4 separate regions of the Homo sapiens genome follow, and all the other regions are linked to region 4. The links come from fine-mapping of genetic effects on gene expression. A gene starts in region 4. Each other region holds a variant in brackets. All regions are shown on one strand. Distances are from middle to middle. Region 1 holds the start of BIN2 (bridging integrator 2). Region 2 overlaps BIN2 (bridging integrator 2). Region 3 overlaps CELA1 (chymotrypsin like elastase 1). Region 4 holds the start of SMAGP (small cell adhesion glycoprotein).

What was found.
Region 1: its variant is fine-mapped to the expression of SMAGP in whole blood (TOPMed, PIP above 0.99).
Region 2: its variant is fine-mapped to the expression of SMAGP in whole blood (TOPMed, PIP above 0.99).
Region 3: its variant is fine-mapped to the expression of SMAGP in whole blood (TOPMed, PIP above 0.99).

Annotation. Positions count from the first base shown.
Region 1 is chr12:51,319,270-51,324,269 of GRCh38, reverse strand. It overlaps BIN2 (bridging integrator 2), which reads left to right and starts at 96. Exons shown (of 13, transcript NM_016293.4): 1 at 96-248. The coding sequence starts at 168. LOC105369767 (a long non-coding RNA gene) reads left to right here and starts at 262. Exons shown (of 2, transcript XR_944957.3): 1 at 262-542; 2 at 1,067-1,902. RefSeq lists silencers at 1-350, 3,331-3,625 and enhancers at 381-570, 4,876-5,000. The variant CACTCCTTTG/G (reference allele first, on the strand shown) is at 1,969.
Region 2 is chr12:51,310,217-51,315,216 of GRCh38, reverse strand. BIN2 (bridging integrator 2) reads left to right here. Exons shown (of 13, transcript NM_016293.4): 2 at 1,314-1,394. Among named protein-coding and RNA genes, the nearest start is that of BIN2, 11 kb to the left of the region's middle. The variant G/A (reference allele first, on the strand shown) is at 1,910.
Region 3 is chr12:51,334,772-51,342,559 of GRCh38, reverse strand. It overlaps CELA1 (chymotrypsin like elastase 1), which reads left to right. Exons shown (of 8, transcript NM_001971.6): 5 at 1,180-1,316; 6 at 2,555-2,700. Among named protein-coding and RNA genes, the nearest start is that of CELA1, 8.0 kb to the left of the region's middle. The variant C/T (reference allele first, on the strand shown) is at 4,500.
Region 4 is chr12:51,265,618-51,273,405 of GRCh38, reverse strand. It overlaps SMAGP (small cell adhesion glycoprotein), which reads left to right and starts at 2,991. Exons shown (of 4, transcript NM_001031628.2): 1 at 2,991-3,150; 2 at 4,090-4,161. The coding sequence starts at 4,128. RefSeq lists silencers at 2,933-3,012, 3,053-3,722 and an enhancer at 2,817-3,317.

The sequences.
Region 1 (5,000 bases), 52 kb before region 4:
CAGTGGTGGGCTGAGGGGCGGGCCTCAGGGCTGGCCAGGGGCGGCCTGAGGTGGCTCAGGGCTGGGGCCGGATGCGAGGCATGCCGGGAGCCCGCACTTCCTCCTCGGGGGCCTCAGAAAACCACAGGGCGCGGGGCCAGGGCGGCGGCCCCCAGGGAGTTGGCAGGATGGCAGAGGGCAAGGCAGGCGGCGCGGCCGGCCTCTTCGCCAAGCAGGTGCAGAAGAAGTTTAGCAGGGCCCAGGAGAAGGTAGGTGGCCGGGCCTCGCTGTCTGTCTGGCCCACAGGGAGCCGAGGCCGAGGCCGAGCCCGGCCGGGCAGGAGGGGCGGGCAGGGTGCTCAGGGGCCCCGAAGGGTCTGGGCTGACGAGAAGGGTCTCCCGCTCTCCCAGGGAAACGGGAGCGAGGAGTGGGCTTCCATGAAAACTGGCAGATTGGAGAGAGGTCGGAGACCGCCACCCGATCTTGGGCAAGGATAAGGGAAGCTGGGGAGACAACAGTCTCTGGGCAGAACCTTCGACAACCCTCAGGCTGACCCAGAAAAGGTGAAAGAAAGGAAGTGATGGTGGTGGCCACCTTTGTATCAAATTTTGTGCTAGCAATCCAAAATTGGTATTTTACAGATGATGAAATTGGAGGGTAATTTTCCATAGAGGGCAATTTCCCCAAAAACAGCGATGCAGCGGATGCCAGCAGGCACCCCCCACCAAAGGCTTAGAATAATCCTGCATAGTTCTCCCCCTACCTGACCCTGCCTGGCCTCTGGGTGGTGTTTCAGCTGACGTAAGCAGGAGCCCAAATCTGCTTCTTCTACCCTCCCTTTGGCGTTGGGGAGTACACCTCCCAGGGTGATGAACCACATCTGTGTTCAGAGTGTGTCCTTGGTTAGTGTCAGGTAGCCCTGCTCCAGCACTGGCACTTAGGTGGGCTGCCCATCTATTACTTGCTTGGCAATCTAAATTGTGGGGACATTCTCTACACATTTTGATGGCATTTTTGTTTCTACCTGTACAGAATATTTTCTTTGCTTCTAACCTGAGCCTCTGCTCTCCACCTACCAACCCTCTAGTAGACAAGGCGGTTTGGGAAGACATGTCAGCCAGAAGAAAGAGCGAGGGAAGAAAGACAAGAAGGACCTGAGATAGAGTTTCGGTTTTCCTTTTTTTCTCTCTCTCTTTATTAAGCCCAACCTGCCTTCTACAACGGAGAAGTTTTGGTTTTCTAAGAGCTGATGGACTTAGAAGCATTTGGATGAACAGCTCTGCTTACCAACTGAAATATCCCTATTATCTTCTAAAAGTGGAGCACTGCTTTGAGCCCTGGGAAGGCTTAAAGGCAACCAGCTCTCCCGAGTTGATTTATCAGCAGAAAACTGATGGAATGTAGATGTAGCTCCTGACTTTAAGAGACCACAATGGAAGGGAGGTTATTTTCTATCATTTGAGGTCATGTGAAAGAGAGGAGGAAAAGGGAAAGAGTTCGTGTAGCCAGACTTCGTTACTTCACTTACCCTAACTTCACCTTGATCCTAGTTTCAGCCTCTCTGAAGACTTACAAATCTGGTAGACCCGAGAGCAGGGCCTATGGGAAGGTCTAGCTCGAAACAGTGTGGGCGAGCAGGAGGTACTGGAGAGAAGGCCACACTGTGGTTGAAAAAAAAAAAAACCCTAAAAGACAAAACACTCATGAATGATAGTAATTTTAAAAAGACATACCAGCCAGGCACAGTGGCTCACTCCTGTAATCCCAGCACTTTGGGAGGCCAAGGTGGGAGGACTGCTTGAGCCCAGGAGATCAAGACTGCAGTGAGCAGTGATCACACCACACCACACTCAAGCAGAGGGAGACTCTGTCTCAAAAAATAAAAATAAATACATAAAAATAAAAGACATACAATTGATTGTATTTCACTCTTGCATCTTCTGTCTTCATCTAGCCTCTCGTCAACACTAAAACCTTGCTTTGGGCTTT[CACTCCTTTG/G]TAAGCATAGACTCCAAACCTTGGCTAAATAATGTCCTGCTCTGGGCTTCAGATCTTGCACCTGTAAAATGAGAGGGTTGATGTTCTTGATGAAACTCAATATGGTAAGAACACTAAATTGAAAAGCTGTCACATTAGACTCAGAGTCAAATACTTCCCAAAGACAGAACCAGTCTCTCAGGTTCTTCTGGCCTGAACCCTGAGGAAGTAGAGAAAGAGGAGCAAACTCAAATCTGCCATGAGGAATTCCCAGCTGATGAAGAAAACAAGATATTCTGAACCTAGACTAGACAAAAGGGTAGGCAAAGGTTGAACTTCGATAAGGTGGGAATGGCCTGGGATGCCGGAAGGGAGCTCAGCTCCGTCAGCCTGAAGCCAGTCCTTGAGTCTTGGGAAGTTATTGAGACCAAGATAAAGAGGGAGAAATTTGCACTAAAATGAAAGAATTCCTTGCAACACTTTTTGCTTTTTCTGCAAGCAGTTGGATGTAATCTTCTGAGTAATAAGTAATAGCTAATGTGTCAAATAGTGAAATGTGTCAAATATCAAGCGCCTATTATGGACCAGAGACAGGGATATAAGAAAGTGATTATCAGCGGGGTGCAGTGGCTCACGCCTGTAATCCCAGCACTTTGGGAGGCCCAGGCAGGTGGATCTCCTGAGGTCGGGAGTTCGAGACCAGCCTGACCAACATGGAGAAACCCCGTCTCTACTAAAAATACAAAATCAGCCGGGTGTGGTGGCGCATGCCTGTAATCCCAGCTACTCAGGAGGCTGAGGCAGGAGAATCGCTTGAACCTGGGAGGCGGAGGTTGCCGTGAGCCGAGATCGCGCCATTGCACTCCAACTTGTGCAACAAGAGCAAAACTCTGTCTCAAAAAAAAAAAAGACAAAGTGATTCTCTCTCCCTTTATGGAGCCAACATTCTACCGATGTCATCTCCCTTCATCTATTCAACACTTTAAGCAGGTTATTAGCATCTCTGTTTTAGAAATAAGGAAACAAGGCTCAAAAGAGATTGGTAGGTAGCAGAAATATTACTGAAACCCAGGTGTCCTGCCTCTGAATCCTAACCTCACTCAGGCTGCTGCTTTACAACGTTCCTGATAAGCCACTCTCACATCTGTGCCTCCCCCACTTCCTGCTGATCCTCTCTCAGGAACAGAGCTCAGAAGTAGAAACACTTTTTGTTCAGGCATCCTCTGAAAAGCTGGGAGTGGAGGTCTGGTGACCATTAAACACAATAGGGATGAAACATTCTTGGTCTGTTTTCCATTTCCCGCCCAAACTCAACATGGGACTGAATTTAAGCTGGCTTTAGAGTGTGTGTGTGTGTGTTTGTGTGTGTGTGTGTGTTTTTAGTATGATACATCTTCTCATTTCCAACTATAGTACTGCTTTCACCATCTGTTTGTGATTTCTCTGTGGCAAACCTCTCAGATCCCCCTGAGAAGGGGCGTTGTTTACCACTCCTTTGTTGGTCTTCTCCTCTGTTGACATCTACTCAGCTTAAATCCCAGAGGGTTAAATTCCACAAATATTTACAGAAAAACTCCTTTGTTCAGGGTACTGGGCTGGACCCAGCAGGGAATTTAGGGGTAAGAGACATTCTTGCTTTGCCAAAAGCTTAAGATCTAGTTAAAAAAAAAAAAAAAAAAGAATAATGATAATAAAATAACTGACCTGAGAGATGCAGGTCTATTCAGAGGACAAAAGGATTGGGGAGAATCGAGAGGTTTTATAGTGGAGGCTGAATTTGAAATAGGAATTATGGGAGATTAGTAGTTTTTCAGACACGTGATCAGAGAGCATTCTAGCTGAGAAGTGCCAGCATAAGCAAGGCATGGAGACTGGAGTGAGAACTACAGCTCAGCTGGAGCACAGGGAGTGGTCAGAGCAAAGGCTGGAAAAAGTATATTAGGACCTTTTAAGGAAAGCTTACTTTATCATATATCCTAAAAATAAAGATTTCCGGCCAAGCGCCATGGCTCATGCCTGTAATCCCAACACTTTGGGAGGGCGAGGTGGGTAGATCACCTGAGGTCAGGAGTTCGAGACCAGGCTGGCCAATGTGGCGAAATCCCAGGAGTTCGAGACCAGGCTGGCCAATGTGGCGAAATCCCATCTCTACCAAAAAATACAAAAATTAGCCTAGTGGTGCACACCTGTAGTCCTGGCTGCTTGGAGGCTGAGGCAGGAGAATCGCTTGAATCTGGGAGGTGGAGGTTGCAGTGAGCTGAGATTGTGCCACTGCACTCCAGCCTGGGCAATAGAGCTAGACTCTGTCTCGAAAGTAAGAAAGAAAGAGAGGGAGAAAAGGAAGGAAGGAAGGAAAGAGAAAGATTTCCTACATAACCACAAAAATTTACTGCACCTAAGAAAAAATTTTAGCAAAATTTTATAATATCAAATATCCAGGCCCTATGCAAATTACCCCAATTGAGGGAATTAACTAAAATATAATAAATGATTATGGGAGAGGCAATGGTAGGGAACTATAGCCACCAAAGATATATGTAGTAATTTTTTTTAAAGCTCTATTTCCACCCCAACCCTGATCTACAGAAAAGTTATAAATAATCAATGAACACTGGAATATTTTTCATGCAGATTCACCAAGTGTTAACGTTTTGCCACATTTACTTTTTTGCCTTGCTCTTGCTCTTTCTCCTTAAATATCTATATTCTAATTTAGCTGCCAGGCCAGATAAATTGGGACAGAATTCTCAAAGCAGGATTTTAGGGATTAGCATTATATGGGTTTTCATTAGGAAGTGATCCAAAAGTAGAATTTATTCATTGTTTCAACAAACATCTGTTTAGCATCTGTACACCCTGTTCCCTCAAGGGTCTTTCGTTGGGAAGAACACCCATGACACAGTATAAGTGCCCTAACATGTACCTGTTGCTTATGGCAACAAATTACTTTGGCTCCAGAGTACTGGGGTATGTTTCAGGGTGGTAACACCTTTTCACTTTCAGAGTTGGAGGGTGAGGAAGTTTCTCTCAGTACCCCCCAACCC
Region 2 (5,000 bases), 43 kb before region 4:
GCCTGGGCGACAGAGCGAGACTCCGTCTCAAAAAAAAAAAAATAATAATAATAATAACAATGCCAGCCAGCCTAATGGCTCATGCCTATAATTGCAGAACTCTGGGAGGCTGAGGCAACAGGATCACTTGAGCCCAGGAGTTCAGCCAGCCTGAGCAACATAGTGAGACCCTGTCTCTACAGAAAATTTTTAAAAATTAGTGAGGTGTGGTGGTGTGAGCATGTGGTCCCAGCTACTGGGGAGGCTGAGGTGGGAGGATTGCTTGAGCCCAGAGAGGTTGAGGCTGTAGTAAGTTGTGATTGCACCACTGTACTACAGCCAGGGCAACAGAGCAAGACCCTGTCTCAAATAAAATAATGACAATAATAACAATGACATTCAGAAAGATATACCTTATTTCTTTCTTTTTTTTTTTTTGAGACAGAGTTTCGCTCTTGTTGTCCAGGCTGGAGTACAATGGTGCGATCTTGCCTCACTGCAACCTCTGCCTGCTGGGTTCAAGCGATTCTCCTGCCTCAGCCTCCCCAGTAGCTGGGATTACAGGCATGCACCACCATGCCCAGCTAATTTTGTATTTTTAGTAGAGATGGGGTTTATCCATGCTGGTCAGCCTGGCCTCGAACTCCCGACTTAAGGTGATCCACCTGCCTTGGCCTCCCAAAGTGCTGGGATTACAAGTGTGAGCCACCACACCCAGCCAGATATACCTTATTTCTTCTGAGCTTTATATTAATATATATCCTCTAGCTCACTACTACGTATCCCCTAGAGCTACCCCTAATTTGAAAAGAACTACAGAACAGGATTGTTTTTTCAGCAGTTTGTTGTATTCCTAATTCTTTTGGTCCAGTAAGAGTACAGCCCTTCAAGGCCAGGCATGTTGGCTCACGCCTGTAATCCCAGCACTTTGCGAGGCCAAGGCGGGTGGATCATTTGTGGTCAGGAGTTCGAGATCAGCCTGGCCAACATGGTGAAACCCCGTCTCTACTAAAAATACAAAAATTAGCTGGGCGTGGTGGTACACGCCTGTAATCCCAGCTACTCAGGAGGCTGAGGCAGGAGAATTGCTTGAACCTGGGAGGCGAAGGTTGCAGTGAGCCGAGATCGTGCCACTGCACTCCAGCCTGGGCAACAGAGTGAGACTCCGTCTCAAAAATAAATAAATAAATAAATAAATAAATAAATAAATAAATAAATAAGTACAGCCCTTGAGTTGTAAGTGAGATTCTTGACTGAAGCCAGGGTCATATGAGGCCAACATGTAAGAGAGACTTGACTATAACCTTACGGGCCTTTCTGACTTATATCCCTAGGTGCTGCAGAAATTGGGGAAAGCTGTAGAAACCAAAGATGAACGATTTGAACAAAGCGCTAGCAACTTCTACCAACAACAGGTAATCTGGAGGGTAGGGGAGGGAAGCTTGGAAGAAGAAAGGAGACACGAGGGCTGAGTGGCAGAAGAACAATAAGTTCTGCAAACTGGCAAACATCTCCACCAAGCCACCCTCCCCCTAGGGTTAAGGGCTACAGGGTGACCTGTTGCTTATCCTTCCTCGGTGAACTAAAGGAATTTACCAGCCAGGCGCAGTGGATCACCCCTATAATCCCAACACTTTGGGAGGGCGAGGCGGGCGGATCACCTGAGGTCAGGAGTTTGAGACCATCCTGGCCAACATGATGAAACCCCGTCTGTACTAAAAATACAAAAAAATTAGCTGGGCATGGTAGTGTGCACCTGTAATCCCAGCTACTCGGCAGGCTGAGGCAGGAGAATCACTTGAACCTGGGAGGCAGAGGTTGCAGTGAACAGAGATCTTGCCATTGTACTCTAGCCTGGGTGACAAGAGTGAAACTCCATCTCAAAAAAAAAGTAAAAATAAAAATAAAGGAATTTACCTTTTTTCTTGCT[G/A]CTGACTGTCATTTTGGGAACAGAGAAATCTCCCTCCCTCCTTCCCTCCCTCCCTCCCTGCCTGCCTGCCTGCCTGCCTTCCTGCCTTCCTTCCTTCCTTCCTTCCTTCCTTCCTTCCTTCCTCTCACTGCAACCTCAACCTTCCAGGTTCAGGCAATTCTCCTGCCTCAGCCTCCCGAGTAGCTGAGATTACAGGTGTGTGCCACCATGCTATGCTAATTTTTTCTTTTTATTTTTAGTACAGACAGGGTTTCACCATGTTGGCCAGGCTGGTCTCAAACTCCTGACCTCAGATGATCCACCCACCTTGGCCTCCCGAAGTGCTGGGATTACAGGCATGAGCCACTGCACCTGGCCCACAAATTCTTTACTATATAAATATCAGTTGAATTATATAGAAAATAATTTTTAAAATTATATTAATGGGTTATTAGCTATCATCTAATTCAGTAGCTGAGTGTATATCAGAATCATTTGGGAAATATTTTTAAATGCAAGTTCTCTGGGAGTAGGGCCTGGGAATCTTACTTTTGAACTTTTTGTTGTTGTTATTGGTTTACCATCTTAGATCTGATGAACTTTTTTTTAATGGAATATTTCAAATATGTACAAAGGCAGATAAACTTGTAAAATGAATTCACATGTACTCATCACTCAGCTTCCATAATTTATCCACTCATGGGCAATCATGTTTCACTGTGTCCCCACTCACTTTCTCCTATCCTTGATTATTATGAAACAAATTCTAGATATATCATTTCATTCGGCAACCTAAGTAACGAACAGAGGGAGGCTGTCTAAGAGAAAAAGATATTTATGCGGGAATAGAGCATTGCAATGGGAATATGTGTACCATAGTAAACTATGAGGTATTCAGGGAGGTAAAGGAAGACACATGTTTTCAAAGGAAAAAATGAGAAGGATTACATGATTCTTTGAAAATAATTATCATTGGCTACAAAGATCAATAATAAGGGTGACACCAGTCCAAGGTTGAACAGGCAGTTGCTGGGCAGAAGTCCTTGCAGAAATATTTTTTGTATAAGGTTGTGATGGCCTTTGTGCAAGGTTGTGGTTTTCATAGGATCTTTTGTGATAATTCTTATCAGGCAAATAAGCATGAGAATGCTCTTTTCATAGCCTTCCCTGGCTCTATTATCAGAGATTTTTTTTTAACACTAGTGACTCCATTTTGATTCCAACAACATTGACACATCTATAAAAATTTCATTATCAGGCCGGGTGCAGTGGCTCACGCCTATAATCCCAGCACTTTGGGAGGCCGAGGCGGGCAGATCACCTGAGGTCAGGAGTTCGAGACCAGCCTGGCCAACATGGTAAAACCCCATCTCTACTAAAAATACAAAAATTAGCTGGGCGTGATAGGACATGCCTGTAATCCCAGCTATTCGGGAGGCTGAAGCAGGAGAATTGCTTGAACCTGGGAGGCGGAAGTTGCAGTGAGCCAAGATCGCACCACTGCACTCCAGCCTGGGTGACAGAGTGATACTCTGTCTCAAAAAGAAAAAAAAAATTCATTATCAATCTCTAAAAATAGAACTCTTTTAAAATGTAACTACAATACCATTATCACACCTCAAAATATTTTTCTATACAACATTTACTTGGCCAGGCATGGTGGCTTATGGCTGTAATACTAGCACTTTGAGAGGCCAAAGCAGGAGAATCAATTGAGCCTAGGAATTCAAGACCAGCCTGGGCAACATAGCAAGATCCCGTCTCTACAAAAAAATACAAAAATTAGCCAGGTGTGGTAGCACATGCTTGTAGTCCCAGCTACCTGGGAGGCTGAGGTAGGAGGATTGCTTGACCCCAGGAATTCCAGGCTGCAGTGAGCTATGATCATACCAGTGCATGCCAGCCTAGGCAGCAGAGCAAGACCTGGTCTCAAAAATGAATAAAGTATAAATAAAATATGTACTCATTACAACAAATCAGAAAGTACATGGTTGGGTACAGTGGCTCACACCTCCCAGTGGGAGGCCGAGGTGGGAGGGTTGCTAAGACTAGGAGTTTGAGACAAACCCGGCAACACAGGAGACCTTAACTCTACAAAAAATAAGAAAAATTAGCTGGGCATGGTGGTGCACGTCTGTGGTCCCAGCTACTGAGCAGTGAGCTGTGATTGTGCCACTGCACTCCAGCCTAAGCAACAGAGCAAGACCCTGTCTCAAAAGAAAAAAAAAAAAGCCCCTACATAAAGAAAAAAGAAAGAAATGAATTTAAAAATTAATAATAGGCCCAACATGGTGGCCCACACCTATAATCCCAGCACTTTGGCAGCCCAAAGTGCTGAGCTCAGAAGTTTGCGACCAGCCTGGGCAACATGGCAAAACCCCATCTCTACAAAAAATACAAAAATTAGCTGGTCATGGTGGTGTGCTCCTGTATTCTCAGCTACTTGAGAGGCTGAGGCAAGAGGACTGACTGAGTCTCAGGTCGAGGCTACAGTGAGCTTTGTTTGTGCCACTGCACTCCAGTCTGGGTGACAAAGTGAGACCCTATCTCAAAAAAAAGGAAAAGAAAACAATATAAACAAAACGATTATGATTTTACATCTTCCTAAACTACAACAATGTTATTTTATATCTTTACAATTACTTTGCTATGTATGTGTATGATATCTAAGTATATCCACAATAAATAAATGTGAGATTTACTAAAGTGAGATTCTTCCATGCATATGATTTTGCAACTTGCCTTTTTCACTTACCAGTGTCATACAAATCTTTTCAGATATTTCAGATTAAATATTTCACTAAAATGTAAGTTTTAGTGCTATCTTTTAAAAAAACCAGAATCATTTCTTAATATCACAAAATATCCTGTCAGTGTCCAAATTCCCCTGATTGTGTCTTCATGCTTTTTATGGTTTGTTTAAATCAGCAACTCACTGACATGTTTAAGTTTATTAGATTTAAGGTCATATCTCTTAATCTATATTCTAATCCCTCCCTTCTTGTAGCTTATTTGTTAATGATACTAGGTTGTTTGTCCTGCAATTTCCTACAGTGTATATTTTGCTGATTGAATTCCCATGATATTGTCTAATATGTTCCTATGTCTTCCA
Region 3 (7,788 bases), 69 kb before region 4:
AGCTGGCCCTGGGCTGGGCGGTGAGGCCTGACTAGCCAACAACTGGCTGCCTTCACCTGTTCTTTCAGAGGGCTAGAGGGATTGCATGGCCTGAAACCTGGTCCGTGGCTCCTGGCCTGGCCTTTAGTTAAGGAGCCCAGCTGAGCCTGAGAGAAGGCACCATGTCCTAGAGGGAGCAATGAGCTGGCTCATTCGTCCAGGAGGACTTTGAGAATTTAGGTTCTGAGCCAGGCACAGTGGCTCATGCCTATAATCCCAACACTTTGGGAAGCCAAGGCAGGCGGATCACCTGAGGTCAGGAGTTTGAGACCAGCCTGACCAATATGGTGAAACCCTGTCTGTACTAAAAATACAAAAAAAAAAAAATTAGCCAGGCATGGTGGCATGTGCCTGTAATCGCTTGATTACAGGAGAATCACTTGAACCCAGGAGGAAGAGGGTGCAGTGAGCTGAGATCGCGCCACTGCACTCCAGCCTGGGTGACAGAGTGAGACTCTGTCTCATAAGAAAAAGAGAACTGACGTTCTGGAGGGCTTGAGAGTCTTTGAAGACCTTTAGGATTTGTTGGATCCAGGCTGGTTTGCACAGTGGATTACCATTCTCTGCAGATTTTAATGTTCTGTTTCTATGGGGGGTTTTATCATTATTTATTATTCACATTATAGAATAGACTCCATCAGCAAAAGTAAATTTCCTAAAGTGAATCTTACACGGGAAAATTGCAAGTTGAGTTGTAAACTTCTGGAAAATAAATAATTAAAACGGTGGTCAATTCTATAGCATGTGCAGGTGGGGGTGGGTTCAAGGAATTGGGATATTCTACTGAGCTTGTAGAGCCACTCAGCCTTTTACATTTTTCTTGTTTGAGAACTCTGCCACCAAGATCATGCCACTCTGCTCCTTTCAGATTCCCCCATTCTCTACTTCCCGGGGTTGCAAAGGTCAGAGCTAGGCTGCAATACCAATGTCCCACCAGCAGATGCTGCTGTTAAACATAGAATGTTTACATGTTAAATTGTAATTGCTCTAGTTTGAGGCTTAGCAAGTGAGCCCCGTCCTTCTTCAAAGTCGTCACTTTCCAATTCCACGGGGATACAAATGCTTAGAGAGGGCCAGTGTATATGCTGACCTCAGGGAAGAGCTGATCCCATGAGTGAGCAGTCTCCTTTTCTCCTGCAGCTATGACATCGCCCTGCTGCGCCTGGCCCAGAGCGTTACCCTCAATAGCTATGTCCAGCTGGGTGTTCTGCCCCAGGAGGGAGCCATCCTGGCTAACAACAGTCCCTGCTACATCACAGGCTGGGGCAAGACCAAGAGTAAGTTGCCTACATTGGCACAATCCACCACGGGGATCTTGATTAGGTAGCTGAGCTTCTAAGACACCTTTTTCTGTGGTCCTAGGTGCTTATGGCCAGAGACCAGGAGCTAAAAGAACCATAGATACAATAACTGATGCATTATATCAAGCTAAGAATGGGCTGTGAAGTAGTTGACAGATTCATGGACTCTTAGAACAAAAAAAGACTTTATCAGAGAATTTTTTTTACCAGCCCCTCATTTTTAAAATTTATTTATTTATTTAGAGACAGGGTTTTGCTCTGTCACCCAGGCTGCAACCTCCACTTCCTGGGCTCAAGTGATCCTCCCACCTCAGCCTCCTGAGTAGCTGAGACTATAGGCATGTACCACCACACTCAGCTAATTTTTAAATTTTTTTGTAGAGATGGGATCTCGCTATATTGCCTAGGCTGGCCTCGAACTCCTGAGCTTAAGAAATCCTCCCACCTTGGCCTCCCAAAGTGCTGGGATTACAGGCATGTGCCACTGCAGCCAGCCAGCCCTTCATTTTATACATGAGGAAACCAAGGTCCAGAGAAATTAAGGATCCTTAGCTGAGTGTGGTGGCATGAGTCTGTAGTCCCAGGTACTCAGGAGGCTGAGGAAGGAGGATCGCTTAAGCCTGACCAACATGGAGAAACCCCATCTCTACTAAAAATACAAAATTAGCCAGGCATGGTGGTGCATGCCTTTAATCCCAGCTACTCGGCAGGCTGAGGCAGGAGAATCTCTTGAACCTGGGAGGCGGAGGTTGTGGTGAGCCGAGATTGCTCCATTGCACTCCAGCCTGGGCAACAAGAGTGAAACTCCATCTCAAAAAAAAAAAAAAAAAAGAAAGAAAGAAATGGAAACAAGCATGCACAATCCCATTTCTGCTCCATGGAGCTTGCAGGAGCAAACAGAACAGACAGATAAATCATCCACAAATAAGGCCATTCCATGGTGCAACTAAGTTATCCACGAGTGAAAAGAAGCAGGAGTAGGGTTGGTGGCTTGGAGCCTAGGTACAGTAAGCAAGGCTGCCTCCCTGAGGGAAGGGTCCTGTGCGGCCATATAAAGAGAGAAGACAGAGGATCCACCACATGCAACAGGGAGAGAGAAGGAGTTTGCCCTGAGCTCAGCTTTCACGAGAGTTTGGGAAGGTGTGGCAGGGGTGGAAGGTTTTTCTGCTGGACCACATCTGGAGCTGACTGCCAATGCCGTGTGTCCTGTTCAGCCAATGGGCAGCTGGCCCAGACCCTGCAGCAGGCTTACCTGCCCTCTGTGGACTACGCCATCTGCTCCAGCTCCTCCTACTGGGGCTCCACTGTGAAGAACACCATGGTGTGTGCTGGTGGAGATGGAGTTCGCTCTGGATGCCAGGTGAACATTTGCAGGGGGTCCCACCCCAGGTCCCGCCACTCTCTGCCTATCCCTCCACCCCTCTTCCTCACCTCCCTATTCGACACTTACTCTTAGTCCTACACAGACTCAATTTTCTACTCTGGCGTCTAAGTGAGAATGATCCTGTGCTGGTAATTCTACACATGCAGAAACTCAAAGTTGAAAGGAACCTTAAAATTGATCTTGCTCGATGCCCTCACTTCAAAGTTTGTACGTGGCCCAACATTTATATGTTGTTGTTGGTATATGTGTGTGTTCTTAGAATTTGTTACCTAGATTTTTTTTTTGAGATGGAGTTTTGCTCTTGTTGCCCAGACTGGAGTGCAATGGGACGATCTCGGCTCACTGCAACCTCCGCCTCTGGGTTCAAGCAATTCTCCTGCCTCAGCCTCCCAAGTAGCTGGGATTACAGGCATGCACCACCACGCCCGGCTAATTTTTTGTATTTTTAGTAGAGACAGGGTTTCTCCATGTTGCTCAGGCTGATCTCGAACTCCCGACCTCAGGTGATCCACCCGCCTTGGCCTCCCAAAGTGCTGGGACTACAGGCGTGAGCCACCATGCCCAGCCAAATTTGTTACCTAGATTTTTTAATGGCAGCGATGCAGCTGAGCCTGGACAGGTGGTTGTGATGCTGTATAAGCAGTACCCTGCTCCCTCTTACCTATCAGTCCTACTTCTCTTGCAGTTCCTCTACCACCATCCCTTTACCCCAGTGATATTTCTGGCAGTATGTACAGGTGAGTTTGATAGGGGAAAGTGCACAAAATAATTTTATAATAGCTTATATATAACAAATATAACCTTCCTCTATTTTGACAAGATCAATCAGCCATAAACTATCTTACAGATTTCTCTTTTTAAGCTTTTTTTATTATTATTATTTTAATATAGAGATGGGGTCTTGCTTTGTGGCCCAGGCTGGTCTCAGACTCCAGGGCTCAAGTGATCCTCCCACATTGGCCTCCCAAAGTGCTGGGAATACAGGCGTGAGCCACCATGCCCCACCCCAGATTTCTTAATGCAGTTTAACAACTATTCATTATATATCTACTATATGCCAGGCATTGTGCTAAGTGCTAAGGTTACAAAGATGGATCAAACAGTGTCAAGTAAAGAAACCAGAGGCACAGACATACAATAGAACATTGTAATACAATGTGGTTAAGTGTTAATAATCAGGATGTGCACAGGTGATATGGAAGCCCAAGGGTAGGTACCTACCTCTACCTACTGGGGCCAGAAAAGACTTTCCTTCCCCAAGAAACTAGAATTTGTAGTGGGTCCTGAGGGGCAAATAGGAATAGGCCAGGCAAAAAGGAGAAAAGACATTCAGAGGGAGGGAACGGCATGAATAAAGGCAGGGGGCCAAGAAACAACCTAGAGTACATACAGAATTATGGGGCATTCCCTAAGGCTAGAGTAGAGCAGCGGCTGGAGGTCCACAAGCCGAATCTAGCTCACTGCTTGTTTTATATGGCCCATGAGCTTAGAACAGTTATTACATTTTGATTTCTATATATATATATATATATGTATGCGTATGTGTATGTGTGTGTGTGTGTGTGTGTGTGTGTGTGTGTATGTTTTTTTTTTTTCCTGAGATGGAGTCTCACTCTGTCGCCCAGACTGGAGTGCAGTGGCGCAATCTCAGCTCACTGAAACCTCTGCCTCCCGGGTTCAAGCAATTCTTCTGCCTCAGCCTCCCGAGTAGCTGGGATTACAGGCACGCACCACCACATCTGCTAATTTTTGTATTTTTAGTAGAGACAGGATTT[C/T]ACCATGTTTGCAAGGCTGGTCTCGAACTGGCTGGTCTCGGACTCCTGACCTCGTGATCCACCTGCCTCTGCCTCCCAAAGTGCTGGGATTACAGGCATGAGCCACCGCGCCTGGCCATATACATATATATATATATTTGTTTTTTTTTTGAGACAGCGTCTCACTCTGTTGCCCAGGCTGGAGTTCAGTTGTACCATCATGGTTCACTTGTAACCTCTGCCTCCCAGGCTCAAGTGATTTTCCCACCTCAGCCTCCCTAGTAGCTGGGACTACAGGCACATACCACCATACCCAGCTAATTTTTTGTATTTTTTGTAGAGACAGGGTTTCACCATGTTGCCCAGGCTGGAATTATTACATTTATTAATGGTAAGGAAAAAAAATCAGAATAATAATATGTCATGACACATGAAGAATATATAAAATTTCAGTGCCCATAAATAACATTTCACTGGAACACAGTCACAGTTGCTCATTTACAAACTGTTTATGGCTGCTTTTTTTTTTTTTTTTTTTTTTTGAAGAGATAAGGTCTTGCTCTGTCACTCAGGCTGGAGTGCAGTGGTGCCATCTTGGCTCACTGCAGCCTCAACTTCCTGGGCTCAAATGATCCTCCCACCTCAGCCTCCCAAGTAGCTAGGATCACAGGCACATGCCATCACACCCAGCTAATTTTGTTTTGTTTTTGGTAGTGACAAGGTTTCACTATGATGCCCAGGCTGGTCTTGAACTCCTGGCCTCAAGCAATCCTCCTGCCTTGGCCTCCTGGAGTGCTGGGATTATAGGCGTGAGGCACCATGCCCAGCCTATGGCTGCTTTTGTAGTACAACACAAAGTAGTTGCAATCAAGACGGTATGGCCTGCAAAGCCTGAAATATGTACTGTTTGGCCCTTAACAGAAGAGGTTTGCTGACCCGTGGGCTAGAATAGAAGCTACCACCATACTAGGAAATGTCAGGAGGTAAGACTAGAGAGGCAAGCAAGAGCTGTACAACTCAGGGCTTCAAATGCCAGGCTTGGGGACATGAACCTTATCTCTTGGGCATTGGGAAGCCATCAAAGACTTCTAAACAGGAGACTAGCACAACCAGATTCACCTTTTAGAATTGTTCTTTAGGCATGTTTTTGAAGAAGACAAGAGAGGCAGGGAGATTGCCTAGAGGGCTATTGCAATGATCTAAGCAAGAAATTTGAGGGCCTGAATTAAGGCAGTGGTGATAGGAACCGGAGGAGGGAAGGAGGAGGATCTGGAACAACAGCCAAGCATCTGGTTTAAGTGATTTGGGGGAGGGCACTGTTGCCCTGAGACAAGATTTACAGAGTTTGAGAGAGAAGATGATGAGTTTGGTTCTGGACAACCTTTGTCTGAGATCCCAGTGGGACATTCAGGTATAGCAACCAGTAAGAAATTTGGTGTTTTTTTTGTTTTGTTTGAGACGGAGTCTCCCTCTCTCACCCAGGCTGGAGTGCAGTAGCGCGATCTCAGCTCACTGCCCCCTCTGTCTCACGGGCTCAAGTGATTCTACTACCTCAGGTTCCTAAGTAGCCGGGATTACAGGCATGTGCCACAACACCTGGCTAATTTTTGTATTTTTAGTAGAGACGGGGTTTCCCCATGTTGGCCAGGCTAAGTCTCGAACTCCTGACCTCAGCCTCCCAAAGTGCTGGGATTACAGGCATGAGCCACCACGCCTGGCCAAGAAATTAGATAGAAAAAGTGGGGCCTGGGGGAAGAGCTGGGCTAGAGATACCTACTGAGAACAAATCAGATCCCATTCCAGGGAAAAACTGTTCAATGAGAAAAGAGCAGTGGGTTGGGAAAGAACTGTCAGAACATAAATACTTGAGTGTTTCAGGGATAAGTGGAGGATAAAGAAACCACTAGGATCTAAGAAAGGAGAAGTAGATGTAAGATAAAAACCTGGTAATAAGGATATTATGAAATCTCAGGAAGTACTTACAGATATCACATAATATACAATTCACCCAGAAGCCACAGTAGGTAAGAGCTGAAAGTGGCCACTTTGGCAATTGTAACCTTGGCAAGAGCAGTTTCAGTGGAGTGGTGAGGGCAGAAGCTTGTCCGAAGGGTAAGAAATAAAGAGGCAATAAGACATATAACCAGCCGGGTGTAGTAGCTCATGCCTGTAATCCCAAGATTTTGGCAGATTGAGGCAGGAGGATCGCTTGAGCCCAGGAGTTAGAGACCAGCCTGGGAAATGTAGGGAGACTTCATCTCTATGAAAATTTTAAAAATTAGCTGGATGTGGTGGCGTGCACCTGTAACCCCAGCTACTTGGAAGGCTGAGGTGGGAAGATCACTTGAGCCAAGGAGTTCGAGGCTGCAGTGAGCTATGATCGCACCACGGCACTCCGGCCTGGGCAACAGAGTGAGACCCTGTCTCAAAAGAGGACAAAAAAAAAAAAAAAGGAAGAACAAAAAAAGTCTGGTAGCTTTAAGGACAGCAAGTCATGGAGGGAGTGGATCTTCTAAGAGAAGAAAATTGGCCGGGCGCGGTGGCTCCCGCCTGTAATATCAGTGCTTTGGGAGGCTATGGCGGGCAGATCACAAGGTCAGGAGTTCGAGACCAGCCTGGCCAGCATGGTGAAACACCATCTACTAAAAATACAAAAAAGTAGCCAGGCATGGTGGCGCGTGCCTGTAATCCTAGCTACTCAGGAGGCTGAGGCAGGAGAATTGCTCGAACCTAGGAGGCAGAGGTTGCAGTGAGCCAAGATCGCACCACCGCACTCCAGCCTGGGTGACAGAGTGAGACTCCGTCTCAAAAAAAGAGAAAAGAAAATTGAGTGCATAAATAGGCAGAGAGGAAAGAATCCTGTAGAGTCAGACAGAGGTAATAATAATAATGGATGGCACAAGATCCCACAGAAGAAAGAGATGGAACTAAGAGCACAGGTGGAGCTGGCTCTGAACAGGAAGAGGGATACCAGATGTGCACACAGACATAGAAAAGTTTGCTGGATTTGGTAGCCGAACGTTGGCAGGTGTTCTACATTATTGCTTCTAGTTACTCATGAACTAGGAGGAGTCAACTTGACTGCTGAAAATGAAGGGGAAAGGGTTGTATGGGTCTGGACTAGTTAGTGTGAATGGGAGGACAGTCCTCCAAGATGTTGCTGACTGGCTGTTTGGAGACCAGACTACGACCACATGGATATATGATTCACTCTGTTTTACTCAAAGACGGTTTCCTGCATGATTGGGGTAAAAGGACAGGATTGCAGATCAACTGCAAGGTCCAAACTAGATGGAGGAGAGAGAGAAGC
Region 4 (7,788 bases):
ATTAAGTTATTATTTATAGTCACCCTGTTGTGCTACCAAATAGTAGGTCTTAAGGTCTTATTCTTTTTTTTTTTTTTTTTGTACCCATTAATCATCCCCACCTCCCTCCCTAAGGTTACTTTTTTTTGGTTGAGGGGAAAGGATCTTGCTATATCTCCCAGGCTGGAGTGCAGCCTTCACCCCCAGGGCTCAAGTGATCCTCCCACCTCAGCCTCCTGACTAGCTGGGACCACAGGTGCATGCCACGACTCCTGTCTAACTTTTTTTGTATTTTGTAGAGACAGTGTTTCAACATGTTGCCCAGGCTGGTCTCAAACTCCTAGGCTTAAGTGATCTGCCCACTGTGGCCTCCCAAAGTGCTGGGATTATAGGTGTAAGGTTACTTGTTTTTTTTTTTTTTTGAGTCAGAGTCTCACTCTGTTGCCCAGGCTGGAGTGCGTTGGTGCAATCTCGGCTCACTGCAACCTCCACCTCCAGGGTGCAAAAAGGTTCTCCTGCCTCAGACTCCGAAGTAGCTGGGATTACAGGCTCCCGCCACCACACTCAGCTAATTTTTGTATTTTTAGTAGAGACGTGGTTTCGCCATGTTGGCCAGGCTGATCTCGAACTCCTGACCTCAGGTGATCTGCCTGCCTTGGCCTCCCAAAGTGCTGAGATTACAGGCGTGAGCCACTGCGCCCCACCAGTTACATTTTAAAGAGAAAAAAAAGATGCTTATTGAAAGAACATTACTAACAACTGTCGAAATTGTGAAAGTGACAGCAAATCAGTAGAGTCAGTCAGTTGAGCCAGATAGCCTCTGAGTCTGTAGTTCTTTTTTTCTTTTTTTTTTGTCGCCCAGGCTGGAGTGCAGTGGCACAATCTCGGCTCACTGCAACCTCCGCCTCCCGGGTTCAAGCGATTCTCCTGCCTCAGCCTCCCCATTAGCTCGGATTACAGGCGCCTGCCACCACGTCCAGCTAATTTTTATATTTTTAGTAGAGACAGGGTTTCACTGTGTTGGCCAGGCTGGTCTTGAACTCCTGACCTTGTGATCCACCCGCCTCGGCCTCCCAAAGTGCTGGGATTACAAGTGTGAGCCACCGCGCCTGGCTGAGTCTATAGTTCTAAACAATCTTCAACACATAATAGAAAATGTGAAAGAGACAGACCCAGGTCCAAGAACGATCTGAACTTCTCCTGGAATTCATGATCAAGGTGGACAGCTAGAAGTATGTCAATGCCAGCAATTGTCCTCCTTTGGATTTAGCCCTCTAGGATTTTAATTTCCTTTTCTCTTGGATATTCTCTTATCTAAGGACAAGCCAGGCTCACCTTTCTTTTATTAAGTTACATATGCATAGCTGGCATATCACTTTCTTTGCCTTTCTTGGTTGGATTGGCATTTTCCCATGCACATATTTACATATATTTCTCACAATATATTTATATAAAATGAATTTCATCACTTTTTTATTGTTTGTTTTCCTCCTGTATTTGTGTTTGTTTTTTTCTTTTGAGACGGAGTTTTGCTGTTGTTGCCCAGGCTGGAGTGCAATGGTGTGATCTCGCCTCACTGCAACCTCTGCCTCCCAGGTTCAAGCAATTCTCGTGCCTCAGCCTCCAGAGTAGCAGGGATTACAGGTGTGTGCCACCACGCCCAGCGGATTTTGTATTTTTAGTAGAGACAGGGTTTCACCTTGTTGGCCAGACTGGTCTCAAACTACTGACCTCAAGTGATCCACCCGCCTCCCAAAGTGCTGGGAGCCACAGTGCCCTGCCCTCTGGTTTCTTTTATAATGAACACTTTAGGAATAAAAGCAACTACTCTTGCTTTGCTTGTGACTTTGTTTTGTTTTCTCCCTTTATGCCTCTCTCCTCTGAGACCTTCCCTTTCGGTCTGTTCCCGGATTAACATGCACAATCTGATGATGCCTGTCTTTCTACAGAAAGTATTTCTGTATAAATACTGGTTTACAAACCTACAGAACGCCTAGGAGTGCGAAGTAAGCACAGAAGTCTATCACTGGGAGGGAAAGAATAATCACAAGGGTTCCAATCCTAAACGGGAAGCCAAGGTAACAAGACCTAGCGTTTATTGAGCACTTACTATGTGCCAGGCAAGGTTCTAATGCCTTACAGTACATATTTACTAACCTATTTCGTCCCAACAGTCACTCTATTCAGACAGGTATTGCCCCAGATAAGAGAAACGGAACAGAAGCAGCTTGTCCAAGATCACACAGCAGAGCTGATTCCAGTGCCTGCGCTATATACTATTACATCCTCTTAGTCACTGAATTCTTCTGATTAATTTGGGAACATTTCCTGCCACAAACGAGTGAGTCAAGAGGTAGCTAAAGCATGGCACTGATTATTCAAATTGAGGTGCTCACCATGCTTCTAGAACCATGGATATGAGATGGCTTTACAGGCATGATCACTTTCAGACCCGCATTTTAGGAATGAGGAAACAGATTTTCGAGATGTTAATTTGCCCAAAGTCACCCAGCTAGCAAGCAGAAGAGCTGGGGCTGTTTGAATCCAAAGTCCACGGCACTCCTAACCGCTGCTCAACGCTGCCCCACAAGAACGTCCAGCTGGCAAGACCCGGGTGGGGCTCGTTGCTCTCCCCGCTTCACCTCCCTGCTTCACGGCCGGGGGTGTGCTGGCTAAGTTCGCTCATCTGCCAAGCTTCAGGACACAGACCTATGTGAGCAAGCGATAAACAAATGCAAATAAATGTAACTTTCCACATTAGCTAAAAATTCAGAGAACGTCAAGCCCAGGGAAATGGGACGGATCCCAGTTAGCCCGCGGCTCCAATCTGGTCCCCCCCCAACCCCGAGCCTCGCGGCGAGAAAGGAAGCGGCTCCGGATGGAGAGTAAAGTGACAATCGGAGAAGGGCAGGCTGCCTTTCCTCCCGGGGGAGCCAAGGGGACCTGCAGAGGGCGGTTTCTCTCCGCTTTTCCTGTCCCACCCCGTCGGCCTGCCCCCCACCCCCTCCGGCCTCTGCGCCAACCCCGCGCGCCACCCGCGGCTTCCTCCGCTCGGGGTCCTCGTTCGGCCTCTGCTGGCCTCCGCGACTCCGCGGTGCCCGCCCCCGTTGAGTTCAAAAGGACGCGCGGAGCGGCGCCGGCCCTTCACCAGCAGCCCGTCCGACTGGAAAGGTGAGCACGAGGGAAGGGCGGGGGCGCCGGAGAGCCGGGTCGCCCACATTCGCCGCAGCCACCTCGGCCGTGGCAGGAACCGAAACCCGGAGCGGCCGAAGCTCAGCGCTCCGCTGGGGCAGAGGGTCGCGGCGGCTGGGAACGCCGCTCCCCGACGCACCGGCCGCCCCCAGCGCAGCGCGCTCCGCGGGGTGCTGGTAACGCGGGGGGCTCGGGGCGGGGGCGGGGACGGGGGCGGGGCCGCGGGGCGAGGACCAACCCAGCCCGTCGCGTCCACCCCGCGTTCGCAGGGGCGTCGAGGATCTCCGGGGCGCGGGGCGCGGGCTGGGGCCCAGTGAGGCTTGGCAGGCTGTGCGCGGACCGCGCCCTGGACGGCGAAAGCAGGCCCGGAGGGGGCGGCCAGTCCGGCGTCCCAGCGTCCGAGGCGAGCCAGAAGGCGGCCCACGGCCGTCGCCTCCCGGTCCCGGCCCGGCTACTGCGCTGCGCCCACTCCGCTCTGGAGCCTGGGCGCGGGTCCTGACCTTCCCGGCCCTCTCCTGACACCTGGTGGATGGCGTCACCAGAACTCCTAGCTGTGGAACCCTAGGGTACCTGTTACCGCGCTTTGGCGAAACTGGGTTCGCTGCTGATTTGCGAACCTTTGCCTGACTTTCTCAGGCCTTGAGAGATCTAAGTAAATTTGGTGGCCCATTGAAAGGACCTGGAGAGAGCGTATGAAGGTAACACCCCGTCAAACTGCATGCGGCCTCAGACCTGCTCCTGTGGAGAGCTGTTGGTACCTGGAGCCTGAGGAGATATTCAGGGAAACCAGAAGAGGACAAGAGAAAAAGGGGAAGGGACTTGGGAGAACCTGGCACCAGAGGCTTTCCTGGGACTTCCAGGACTCAAAGCCATAGGGGCCCACCCGCTACATTCCTGTCTTTGCCCCTCTTCCTACAGATCTGCCTCTTCTCCAAGAAACTCAACCACTAGTGACAATGACCAGCCTCCTGACTACTCCTTCTCCAAGAGGTAGGTGAAGGCCTTTCCTAATCCCAGTGAGAAAGAATTGTTCAACATCCCCTTCCCCAGACCAGTCCTGGAAGCCTCAGCCCAGGTGGGAAGACTCCCACCTCTCTCTGCCTGCCTCACACAGGAAGGGCCTGGGAGGAAGCAGGAACTAGAGTGTGCCCCTTAGTACGGTTTTAATCTGAAGTCACATGGACATGGTGACTTCACAAATCTTTGTAACCTCGGTTTATCAAATAATTTTATGTCGGTAATCCCAGGACTTTGGGAGACTGAGACAGGAGGATCTCTTGAGGCTAGGTGTTTGAGACCTGCCTGGGGAACATAGTGAGACCCCATTGCTAATTCAAAAGAAAGAAAGAGGCCGGGCGTGGTGGCTCATGCTTGTAATGCCAGCAGTTTGGGAGGTCGAGGTGGGCGGATCATCTGAGGTCAGGAGTTTGAGACCAGCCTGGCCAACATGGTGAAACTCCATCTCTACTAAAAATACAAAAAAATTAGCCAGGCGTGGTGGTGCACGCCTGTAATCCCAACTACTCAGGAGGCTGAGGCATGGGAATCGCTTGAACCTGGGAAGCACAGGTGAGCCGAGATCGTGCCATTGCACTCCAGCCTGGGCAACAAAGTGAGACCGGTCTCAAAAAATAGGAAGGGAGGGAGGAAAGGAAAGGAAGGAAGGAAGGAAGGAAGGAAGATTATTGTATAAGCCTAAAGGAAGGGCTTTACATTCATCTGTCTAATAATTTATAGCTATGGCAAAGAATGTAGCAGAAACCCTTGTAATTAAATGTGGAAAAGGAATCTTCAAAGATAACAGGGAAATCATTTTTTAAAAACCTGCTAAAGATAGTATTGCTAACCTCTAAGCTCCGGTTTCATCATTCACAAAATAGGGAAAATAGTACCTATCTTATGATTTATGAAGATTAAATGAGACAACCCATATAAAACACCTAGAAGAGTGTGTAGTATCTCGTAAGCACTCAGTCACGTTGGTTATTAGCACTGAGTACTTGTTAGAAACCCATCTTTCCCTTGAAAGTGATTTTGCTGGCTTTCTCATTCCACTCCTCTGGTGATACAGACCCAGCATCAAAACCCCATTGTTCCCTGAAGGTGTGCGGAGGCCGGGCACTACTGCTCAGCACTCTGAGAATGGATGCCCACCTTTTAGTTCATCATCAGGCTGGGCCGGACAAACTATCAGTTATTTATTGACTGTTTTCAGCATGTGCTAGTTAGGGAGAGAGAGGAACAAACCCTTGGTTGGTCTATACACCTTTGTCTTCCTATACACAGTCACATTTGTCATTAGGACAGGCATTCTCTGCTTTTACTGATGTGGAAACAGGTGAGTGACACCACCAGTGGAAGTCTAAGACAGTGTCCTCTGTGACTGGTAATGCACACAATTCAGACTTTTAGTTGTCTGGTGAGAAGAGATAAAAGAGAGAAATGGCCAGGTATGGTGGCTCACGCCTGTAATTCCAGCACTCTGGGAGGTTGAGGCAGGCAGACTGAGCTCAGGAGTTCGAGATCAGCCTGGGCAACATGGCGAAACCCCATCTCTACAAAAAAATTTAAAAATTAGCCGGGCTTGGTGGTAGACACCTGTGGTTCCAGCTACTCCAAAGGCTTAGGTGGGAGGATCCCTTGAGCCCAGGAGATGGAGGTTGCAATGAGCCGAGATCATGCCACTGCACTCCGGCCTAGGTGACAGAGCAAGACCCTGTCTTAAAAAAAAAAAAAAAGAGTTAGGGGGACACGGAGTGGGGGGGGGGAATAGGTCAGCAAAGGCTTCATGGGTGGGTGAGGAAGGGGATCTGAGTCTTGCCCTTGAAAGACGGACAAGGTTCATACAGGCAAAGGGGCGCAGCAGGTATCTTAGAGAAACGTAGAATACCTTTTTCGTGTGTACCTGCTCTAGATAAAGGTAGAATACCTCATACCATGTGTGAAGCTACAGAGACGATTTACCCTGGAGGATGTTCAGGAAGCGGGTGGGCAGAGGACCTCCAGAATAATCCTGCCCACAAGGGAAAAAAGGTGATACCTTGGCAGCTAGCTGAGGGATTAGAACCTTGGCAAGGGGGAGCTGTTTACATTTTTTAAATTTTATTATTATTATTTTTGAGACCAAGTCTTGCTGTGTCACCCAGGCTGGAGTACAGTGGCTTAATTTCGGTTCACTGCAACCTCCGCCCCCTGGGTTCAAGCAATTCTCCCACCTTAGTCTCCCTAGTAGCTGGAATTACAGGCGTGCGCTACCACGCCTGGCTAATTTGTATACTTTTAGTGGAGACAGGGTTTCGCCATGTTGGCCAGGCTGGTCTCAAACTCCTGGCCTCAAGTGATCTGCCCTTCTCGGCCTCCCAAAGTGCTGGGATTACAGGCTCATGCCATTTTTTCTTTTTTAAAATTTATGGTAAAATAAACATAGTACAGGTATTACCATTTTAGCCATTTTTTCGCAGACAATTCAGTGGTAGAGTAGTCCCCGCTTATCCACAGGGGATTCATTCCAAAAACCCCAGTGGATGCCTGAAATCTCAGATAGTACTGAACCCCATCTATACTGTGTTTTTTCCTGTACATACATACTTATGATAAAGCTTAACTTGTAAATTAGGCACAGTAAGAGATTAACAATAATAATAAAATAGAACAACTATAACAATATACTGTAATAAGAGTTATGTGAAAATGGTCTCTCTCACTTAAAATGTCTTATTTACTATAGATCTTAGAAACCTCAGTACACAGTTCTTTTTTTTTTTTTCTTAAGTCAAGAACTTTCACCTTTTCACTTAAAGGAAGCACTTCTTGTTGGCATGTCCAAATTGCATCACTATTCTTGTGCTTTGGGGCCACTGTCATGTAAAATAAGGGTTACTTGAACACAAGCGCTGTGGTACTCTACTAAGCGTTTATAGCATGGACACAAAAGGATGATTCACTTTCCAGGCAGGATGGAGCAGGGTGTGAGATTTCATCACGCTACTCAGAACGGTACATAATTTAAAATGTATGAATTGTTCCTTTCTGGAATTTTCTTTTTCTGTTAAATTTCTATTTAATGTTTTCGGACTGCAGTTGACCACGGGTAACTGAAACCTAGGAAAGCAAAACCGCAGATAAGAGGGGACTACTGTTGTTTTTTTTTTTTGAGACGGAGTCTCGCTCTGTCACCCAGGCTGGAGTGCAGTAGCGCCATCTCAGCTCACTGCAAGCTCCGCCTCATGGGTTCACGCCATTCTCCTGTCTTAGCTTCCCGAGTAGCTGGGACTACAGGCGCCCACCACCACGCCCGGCTAATTTTTTGTATTTTTAGTAGAGACGGGGTTTCACCGTGTTAGCCAGGATGGTCTTGATCTCCTGACCTCGTGATCCGCCCACCTCGGCCTCCCAAAGTGCTGGGATTACAGGCCAGTGCCTGGCCTGGGGGGACTACTGTATTAAGTAATTCATGTTCCTCACCACCATCCATCTCCAGAACTTTACCTTCCCAAACCGAAACTTGACACCCATTAAACACTGATTCCCCATTTCCCTGCAAACACCGTTCTATTTTCTGTCTATGTAAATTTGACTGCTCTAGGTACTTCATGTAAGTAGAATCATACAATAGAC